Homo sapiens: one gene and its partner. The protein of the gene in region 1 purifies or fractionates together with the protein of each later gene. This does not show direct contact. Each region holds a gene or a part of one and is shown on either strand. Other genes may lie near its edges.

The links.
Region 2: the proteins of PITPNB (region 1) and HSDL1 purify together in Homo sapiens (affinity purification with mass spectrometry; one large-scale study listed by BioGRID and IntAct). This does not show direct contact.

The regions. Positions count from the first base shown.
Region 1 is NC_000022.11:27,916,457-27,920,663, forward strand, and holds the start of PITPNB (phosphatidylinositol transfer protein beta isoform), read right to left. Parts: upstream 2,801-4,207; 5' UTR 2,736-2,800; coding exon 2,716-2,735; exon of another isoform or gene 2,672-2,715; coding exon of another isoform or gene 2,646-2,671; intron 1,954-2,645; exon of another isoform or gene 1,939-1,953; coding exon of another isoform or gene 1,919-1,938; intron 1-1,918. UniProt on the Homo sapiens protein: Catalyzes the transfer of phosphatidylinositol and phosphatidylcholine between membranes. Also catalyzes the transfer of sphingomyelin.
Region 2 is NC_000016.10:84,131,395-84,135,413, reverse strand, and holds part of HSDL1 (inactive hydroxysteroid dehydrogenase-like protein 1), read left to right. Parts: intron 1-4,019.

The DNA of each region.
Region 1 (4,207 bases):
ATAACTTGAAGGGAAACAGCCCACCTCGAAAGTCATTTCTAACATTTTAATTCTTATAAAAAAATAAATAGAGGGCCAGGTGCGGTGACTCACACCTGTAATCCCAGCACTTAGTGGGCGGATCACCTGAGGTCATGAGTTCCAGACCAGCCTGGCCAGCAGGGTGAAACCCTGTCTCTACTAAAAATACAAAAAATTTAGCCGGTCATGGTGGCGTGCGCCTGTAGTCCCAGCTACTTGGGAGGCTGAGGCAGGAAAATCGCTTGAACCTGGGAGGCGGAGGTTGCAGTGAGCAGAGATCATGCCACTGCACTCCAGCCTGGGCAACAGAGACTCCGCCTCAAAAAAAAAACATAAAAATAAAAAAGAATTTTATAAGACAACAAACATTTGCCAAAGTATTTTAGTTACCAATATCTTCACATAGGAATAAGCTATTCATTGCTCCTAACCAACAAGAATTTTAGAAAGTTGACTTGAGAGTAAGAAGTATCAATTTTTCATTGAACAACACTGAATTCTTTAGAGCATGTTAGGCCTAGATGCTGTGCTAGATACCGACATTACTTAAGAAACAGCTTCTACCTTCAAAAAGTCTAGGAGGAAAAAAAATCTAGGGGAGATACACATGAAGAGTTAACATCAAGAAACTTAATTTATAACTCTTTGGGAAAAATAATTAGACTTTGGGCACGTGTCAACATTCATTATCTGGGTACATTTAAATCTTCATAATGAAAGCAAATGTTTGCAAAAAGCACAGTGCGCAAATTCCCAATAGGAACTGCTTTCCAAGAGTTAGCTTCATACTACTCACATACTGTCAAAGGGATCTACTGAATACTGTGTGTCTGTAACACTTTTGGAGGGAGGAAATACTCCAATGAAAGAAAAATGACTGGATCTATTTAAAATCAGTTCTGCAACTCACTTGCTGTGTAACTTGGTCCAAGTCAATTTCCTTCTTATTTTCTCCATTTGTTTTAGTGTCTGCCACCCATCTACCCACATCATCTAGAAGTCAGAGTAATGAACACTTGTTTGATACACTGTATAAACGACTTGGAAGAAAAGTTTTATATAAACCCAATATTCAGTACTATAAATAAGCTTTAATTGAGAATTTTCACTCTACCAAAAAAAGGCAAAATGTCTCTTCTCAAAATCCCTGTCACTGACCAAAGTTATCATTTTTCATCAATTCATTAACAAATATTTACTGAGCACCTATTACATGCGAGGGACTATTCTAAAAACTGGGGATATGAGAGTGAGCAAAACAAACTCATGGCCCTTACATGTAAAAAGAGAACACAACTAGTAGGAGAAAAATAATAATAATAAATTGTATTGGCATGTTGGATGGTGATAAGTACTATGGAGACCGATAAAGCAGGGAAGACAAATACCACCCCAAATAGTGGGAACTACAATTAGGTCTTCAGAAAGGGATTCCCTGAGAAGGTGACGTCTGAGCAAAGACCTGGAAGAAGGTGAGTTAGTGTGCCAAGGGAAGAACACTTCAAGCAAAGGGAACAAAAGCAGGTGGAAAGGTCTTGAACTGAACTTATTCTAGAGTAGCAGAGGAACAGCAAGGAAGCTTGCGAAGATGGAATGGGCAAGGAAAAGGTAGTAAATGAGATCAGGGCAGGAAAAAAAAGTGTAAAGCCTTGTAGCTGTTGCAGAGGCTTTGACTTTTATTCTGGGTGAGACAGGGAGTCTTTGGGAGGTATTAAGTCTCAGAGAAGTGCATCAGTGACTTTTTAAAGGAGGTTTAAGAACACTAAAAATAAGGTGTCTGAAAAAAGCTAAATTAAGCCAAAAATATTTCTAAGAATTTAAAATGAAGAATTTGAAAACCAACGAATGGGCCATACTCGACCTCCCTAGCTGCCCAAAGGATGCTGACGACACGAACCAGCTGTGACAGACGAACATTCAGAGGCAAGCAGATTTCCGTAATGTTTACAGTCCTTGCCAGTAGGAAAAGCCGTGACTTTTCAACAAAATCACTTGGCCAGTCGGATGCACCTCGAAATCCCTCCATTTGACAGAGCACGTGTTAACTTCTAAGAAAGTAGGTGGGGCCCGGGATGTCACCTCATCTTAAAACATGCGGAAACCAAAAAGAGAAAAGGCTCTCCCGTCAAGTCAGCGGAGCTGCCCAGGAGAGCGGAGGCTTTCCGGAATCCCGGCTCCACCACGAACTTCAAGGCGCCAGCGTCCCACCGCGAGTCCTGACACGAGGGCTGCCTTCAACCGGCAAGCCCATCTCCCGCTGGTTACCAGGGGACTCCACCCCGGACGACAAATCACAGTCAGAACCAACGTGTCTCTCCCACCCTCGGACTGCGGCTCCTTCCCACCGGCGGGCCTGGGGGTGGGCCCAGACCCAGCCTGGGGGTGGGGGGTTGGGGAGAAGGCGGGTCCCAGCGGAAACTCCCGGCCGCGCCTTCCCGAGCCATGCGCTCGGGCCGGGACCCAGCCGCCTTCGCCCCGGGGAAGGGAGAGGGCGTGTTACCACGGCAATGCCTGGAGGGCCGAGGGGCGCACTCGCTGAGGGGCTTCGAAGGGGCCGGGGGAGGGAGGGGGCGCCCGCAGGGAGGGGCTGACACAGGGCTGACTCCGATTTAGGAATATCCTACCACTTCTCCATCAACAAATCTCCCATCACTGCCGTCCCACGGCCTCGCTCGCGCCCACAGACCCACTCACAATTCCTTGATCAGCACCATCTTCCCGGAACCCCCTCACAGCTGCCGCCGATACCACCGCCGCCGCCGCCGCTACCGCCTCTCACAGCGCCTGCGCGGCCCCGCCTCCCTGCCCCCCCGAGCCACCATCGCGCCTGCGTGCTTACACCCTTCCGCCGCGACCAGTCGCGTCAGCGCGCGAGGGGGCCTAGCTCCGCCCAGTTTCGTGCCCCACCCCGGGCACACGAGGCCTCCACTGCGGTTGCGCAGCCTGCCGAAGAGCGTGCGGCTTCTACTGCGGCTGCGCAAGCTCGACGCGCGCACTCTTGTCTGCTTACGAGGGCTCCTCCCTTCAGCTTTGGTCCCTCGGGGCGTCTGGGCAGCCTACGCTTTCCGGTGAGTTTTCCAGTTGGTTCTTTGGAAGCCGTTTTGCGGTGACTGGTTTTCTGCTCTCTCTCACTGCTCCGAGTCAGGGCCCACCTCCTTGACCGACACCTCACCTCCATAGTCCACATAAAAGACTCCTGACAGGTTCTGGAGGCAGCCGACGCCAGCTTCTGTTCCCCTCCCCAGCCCTTGGCAGCTCAGGTTCCGCGGGAGGACGTTCACCTGCTTCGCGGTCTCGTGGAGGTCCACCGCGGCGGAGAATCCTAAACCTCACCTGTGACTCGGCAGGATGAGCGGCCAGCACTCCCGACGGAGGCCCTCTGGGAGAAAAGAGGCCCTTGGCCTCGAGACCCAGGAAAGCGGGCTGTTCAGGAGTTGGTTCGCGCAGTTACACCGAAAGCGCCGTGGGCCTCAAAGCCGCAGCCCGGAGGTCGCTGGCTTGCTCTGTGTCAGACACGGTTCTAGGCAGTGGGGATGCATCTAGAAGCAGACACAGTCCCTGTTCTCAAGAAGCTCACAGTCTAGAGGAGACAACTCACTTGGAAAGAAAGCAGGGAGAATTTGGGGTGGTGGGGAAGTGCTATGCTATGAATACAGTGGAGTACTGGGAGAAGCAGAGGACTCAAGACAAGGGCTGTCTTAGGAGGCGGTGTTTGAGCCTAGCCTGTTAGGATGTGAGAGGGGCATTCCAGTTGGAGGGAAATATGACCCGAGGATGGAGTAAGCCTAGGGTGTTCAAGGATCAGCTAGAGGGCAGATGTGGCCAGAACATCCTAAGTGAGGGTGGGAAATGAGCTGGGACCAACTGGATTACTAGGCCATAGTAAAGAATTTGTCTTCTAAGAACCATGAGAACCTGTTGAAAGGCTATTAAGACGATTAAAATATCACGAAAACATTTTTGTATAAACATCTGGTGTATCTGATAGTGGAATACATCTGTGGAGTTAGGGCTGCCTCCAAAAAAATAACGGAAATGGACTGACTCAGTGACTCCCAGGGACTGCCTTAGGAGAAAGTTTCTGGAATGTCAGAACTTCCAGAAACTTTCTCCTAAGGCAGTCCCTGGAGTCACCGAGTTTCTCTTATGTGTGACTAGTGCTAGTTATTGTGAGGGCAGAGATTTA
Region 2 (4,019 bases), on another chromosome or scaffold:
GCTTCCATCTGTGTGGGTTCCTCCATGAGGCATGCCTGACCTCCTTTTTGTAGCGAGAGCCTTACTCTATAGGCTTGGAGCAACTCATTTCCCCACAAATACTGCTTTGGCTACAACCCATTGATCTTGATATGTAGTATCTGTTTTTTCTTTCTTTTTTTTTTTTTCTTTTTTCTTTTTTGAGACGGAGTCTCCCTCTGTCGTCCAGGCTGGAGTGCAGTGGCGCGATCTTGGCTCACTGCAAGCTCTGCCTCCCCGGTTCATGCCATTCTCCTGCCTCAGCCTCCTGAGTAGCTGGGACTACAGGTGCCCGCCACCACGCCCTGCTAATTTTTTGTATTTTTAGTAGAGACAGGGTTTCACCCTGTTGGCCAGGATGGTTTTGATCTCCTGACCTCGTGATCCGCCCGTCTCGGCCTCCCAAAGTGCTGGGACTACAGGCGCGAGCCACCGTGGCTGGCCTGTAGTATCTATTTTTTCATTGAAAACACTGTTTTAACAGCCTAGATGTATGCCTACCTGTTATTAGAAGAATAAGCTTAATATTCCAAGTGTCTAGGTTTCTTTAGTCATAGCTTGTTATTCCCAATTTTATTACATTTTGCTTGAGAGGTCCTGGTACATACAGGTAATTACATACAGGTAATTGTTTTTGCATTTACTTTCCTCATGGCCTTGTGTTTGATTAGTTATGACAAAAGGCACCCACACTTTTTATGAGTTATTTCCGGAACTCACAATTTAGGATGGTCTAACATAGAATCTCGGTTGTTTTTTTTGTTTGTTTTTTGGGGTTTTTCTTGAGATGGAGTCTAACTCTGTCGCCCAGGCTGGAGTGCAGTGGTGCAATCTTGGCTCACTGTTACTTCCGCCTGCTTGATTCAAGTGATTCTCCTTCCTCAGCCACCCAAGCTGGGCAGTCACCACCATACCCGGCTAATTTTTGTGTTTTTAGTAGAGATCAGGTTTCACCATGTTGGCCAGGCTGGTCTTGAACTCCTGACCTCAAGTGATCTGCCCACCTCGGCCTCCCAAAGTGCTGGGATTACAGGTGTGAGCCACCGTCCCTGGCTGGAATGTCAGTTTTTAATGTTCTTATAGGATATTAATGTTTTGGGCCTGTCTTTGGGAGTCCAGTACTTATGACTGTTCAAGGGCTACAGCCAGTGTGAAAACTCTGATACCGTGCCCGTCATCAGCATATCCAGCAGCAGGAGGGTTGTGGGAGGGGTGGTGGCGCGGCTTCCTCTCATGCAGATCTGGAAACAGGTATGCTCGTTCGCTACACTGAAGGGGGGGCCCTAACTTTGAATATATTTCAAAGGATTGTCAATCAAAGGATTTGGGAGCAGTAAGGGGTATTGGTGACTGCTGTACGGAAGATTGCTCAGAAAAAAGAAAGACTTTGTTGAACTAGACAGCTCATATTTTAGGTCATCTCAGCCAATCTGGTTCATAAAGAAAAATTACCCCAAAGGAGCATTTATTTTAGTTGTTTTTAGCTTAAGTATTTGGTTTATGTACTTAGTCAAATTTAAAATGTTTCCTTTTCATGATGAACTTTGGCATTCTCATTGTGGGAGGTGAGTTTCTGTGCACAGAGCCCCAGTGGACAGCATTTTACCTGTAGGGAATAAAGGGGCCCAACTTTTCATTTGAGGAAAACTTTTTTGTTTGTTTGTTTCGAGATGGAGTCTCACTCTGTCGCCCAGGCTGGAGCGCAGTGGCATGATCTCGGCTCACTGTAACTTCCTCCTCCCGGGTTCAAGCAGTTCTGTGCCTCAGCCTCCCAAGTAGCTGGGATTACATGTGCCCACCACCATGCCCAGCTAATTTTTGTATTTTTAATAGAGACGAGGTTTCACCATCTTGGCCAGACTGGTCTTGAACTCCTGACCACCTGCCTTGGCCTCCCAAAGTGCTGGGATTATAGGCATGAGCCACCGCGCCCGGCTGAGGAAAACATTTTTTAAACTTAATGCCACATTGGCTTAATTTGGTAACTTAATATAGCAGCAATATCAACTTAATACGGTACCAGTATGAAACTTTCTTTTTTAGAGAGATTGTTTCCTTATCGTAGGGCATTTAGGAATCCTACTGCTTCTCCATTTCTTCAGTTTTCAGTCATATTTCTTGTGTACGTTTTGTTGATTTGTAATTCACACTACACATTTATATATATTTATTCAATAGTTTTAAAATTATTTTATATGCCTTTTATCACAATATGGTGCCATTCTTGTATGTGTTCCGTTTCAGTGGTTCATTTGTTTTCTTCTGCTTGGTTCCTTTTTTACTTTGCAAAACTTTGTTGAGCTCAGATTACACTGCAGTGGAGTAGGAGGGAATTCCCCATTCTTTCTCAAACTTAGGCTAATTTGTGCTGCTATTGTTGGGTATTTTCTTAGTATCCAGACTTTTTTTTTTTTTTCTATTTTAAAGGGATTTCTTCAAAAGTTGCCACCCCCAGAAGTTTTATATTTCTTTTTCTTTTGGCTTAAAATCATGTTCTTTTTAGAATATAAGCTGTGTCCTTGGGTTTGTGTGTATCTGAGTTCCCTGTAATATAAGTGTAGTCTATTGCAGTTGTTTTGATATTTTGTCTTTCGCAGGATGCACACGGTTGGTTTAGCCTGATATGAAGTCCACTCACTCGGTCTGTGGCCAGACCCCCCATGCCTGGCCTTTGTCTACTTCTGCAGGGTTATCTCTGATTGCAGGCACACACCTACCACATCATGTGGCATTTTACATTATTTTGTTAAATGTCTGCGTCTTCACCTAGGGACGGTCATTTAGTTCATCTGTGAATCCTTTGAATCACAGTACATAGAACATAGTAGGTGCTTAGTATATACTTGCTATGTGGACACTCAACAGAGTTGTGTTGGACTTTTCTTTCCTCAAATGTAAGAGACCAGGCAACATAATGGTTACAAATTAAGTTAGAAGATGGAGGAGTGCTCCCTCTATTGTCATTTGAGAAGCCATTTTTCCAAGCTTGGAGGGTATCTCTTTAAAAAAAATTTTTTTTTTAATTGATGTAAAGGTTTTTGAAAGCTGAGTTTTGTCTCCAGTGGATTGTAAGCTTTTGAGGCCAAGGCCATGTCTTAGTGCCACCTCTGTTTCATCTCCTTTGTCCCTACACAGGTAGTAGGTCCTCCATTCTTGCTGATTATGAATAAAGCAAAGAAATACATGTACCTCTGCTGTATGAATTAGAAGCTTTGTGTTTGTTATTATTAGACTAGGAGCATGTTACAGGCACAGAGCATATTGTGTTTATCTCTGTAGCCACAGCATGTAGTGTAGTACCTGAATTTTAGTGGGAATTTGGTAACTTCTGGTAGTTATGTTGATTAGTCTCCTTGGAAGAAAGTAACTTTATAAGCTACGGATGTTAAATGGTGAGATCATAAATTGGCTGAATCTCCAGGCATGGTGGCTCACACCTGTAATCCCAGCACTTTGGGAGGCCAAGGGTGGCGGATCACCTGAGGTCAGGAGTTTGAGACCATCCTGGCTAACGCGGTGAAACCCTGTCTCTACTAAAAATACAAAAAATTAGCCGGGCGAGGTGGCGGGCGCCTGTAGTCCCAGCTACTCCGGAGGCTGAGGCAGGAGAATGGCGTGAACCCCAGGGGGCGGAGCCTGCAGTGAGCCGAGATTGCGCCACTGCACTCCAGCCTGGGCGACAGCGAGACTCCGTCTCAAAAAAAAAAAAAAAAATTAGCCGGGCGTGGTGGCATGTGCCTGTAGTCCCAGCTACTTGGGAGGCTGAGGCAGGAGAATCGCTTGAACCCGGGAGGTGGAGGTTGCAGTGAGCCAAAATCGCACCACTGCACTCCAGCCTGGGCGACAGGGTGAGACTCTGTCTGATAGATAGATAGATAGATAGATAGATAGATAGATAGATAGATAGATAGACTGAAACTGTGAGCCACGTACATTTGAAAAGTTAGTGTTATTTGAACGTACAATTGACAAGATCTGATGCCCTCAGCTGGATGTCTTCA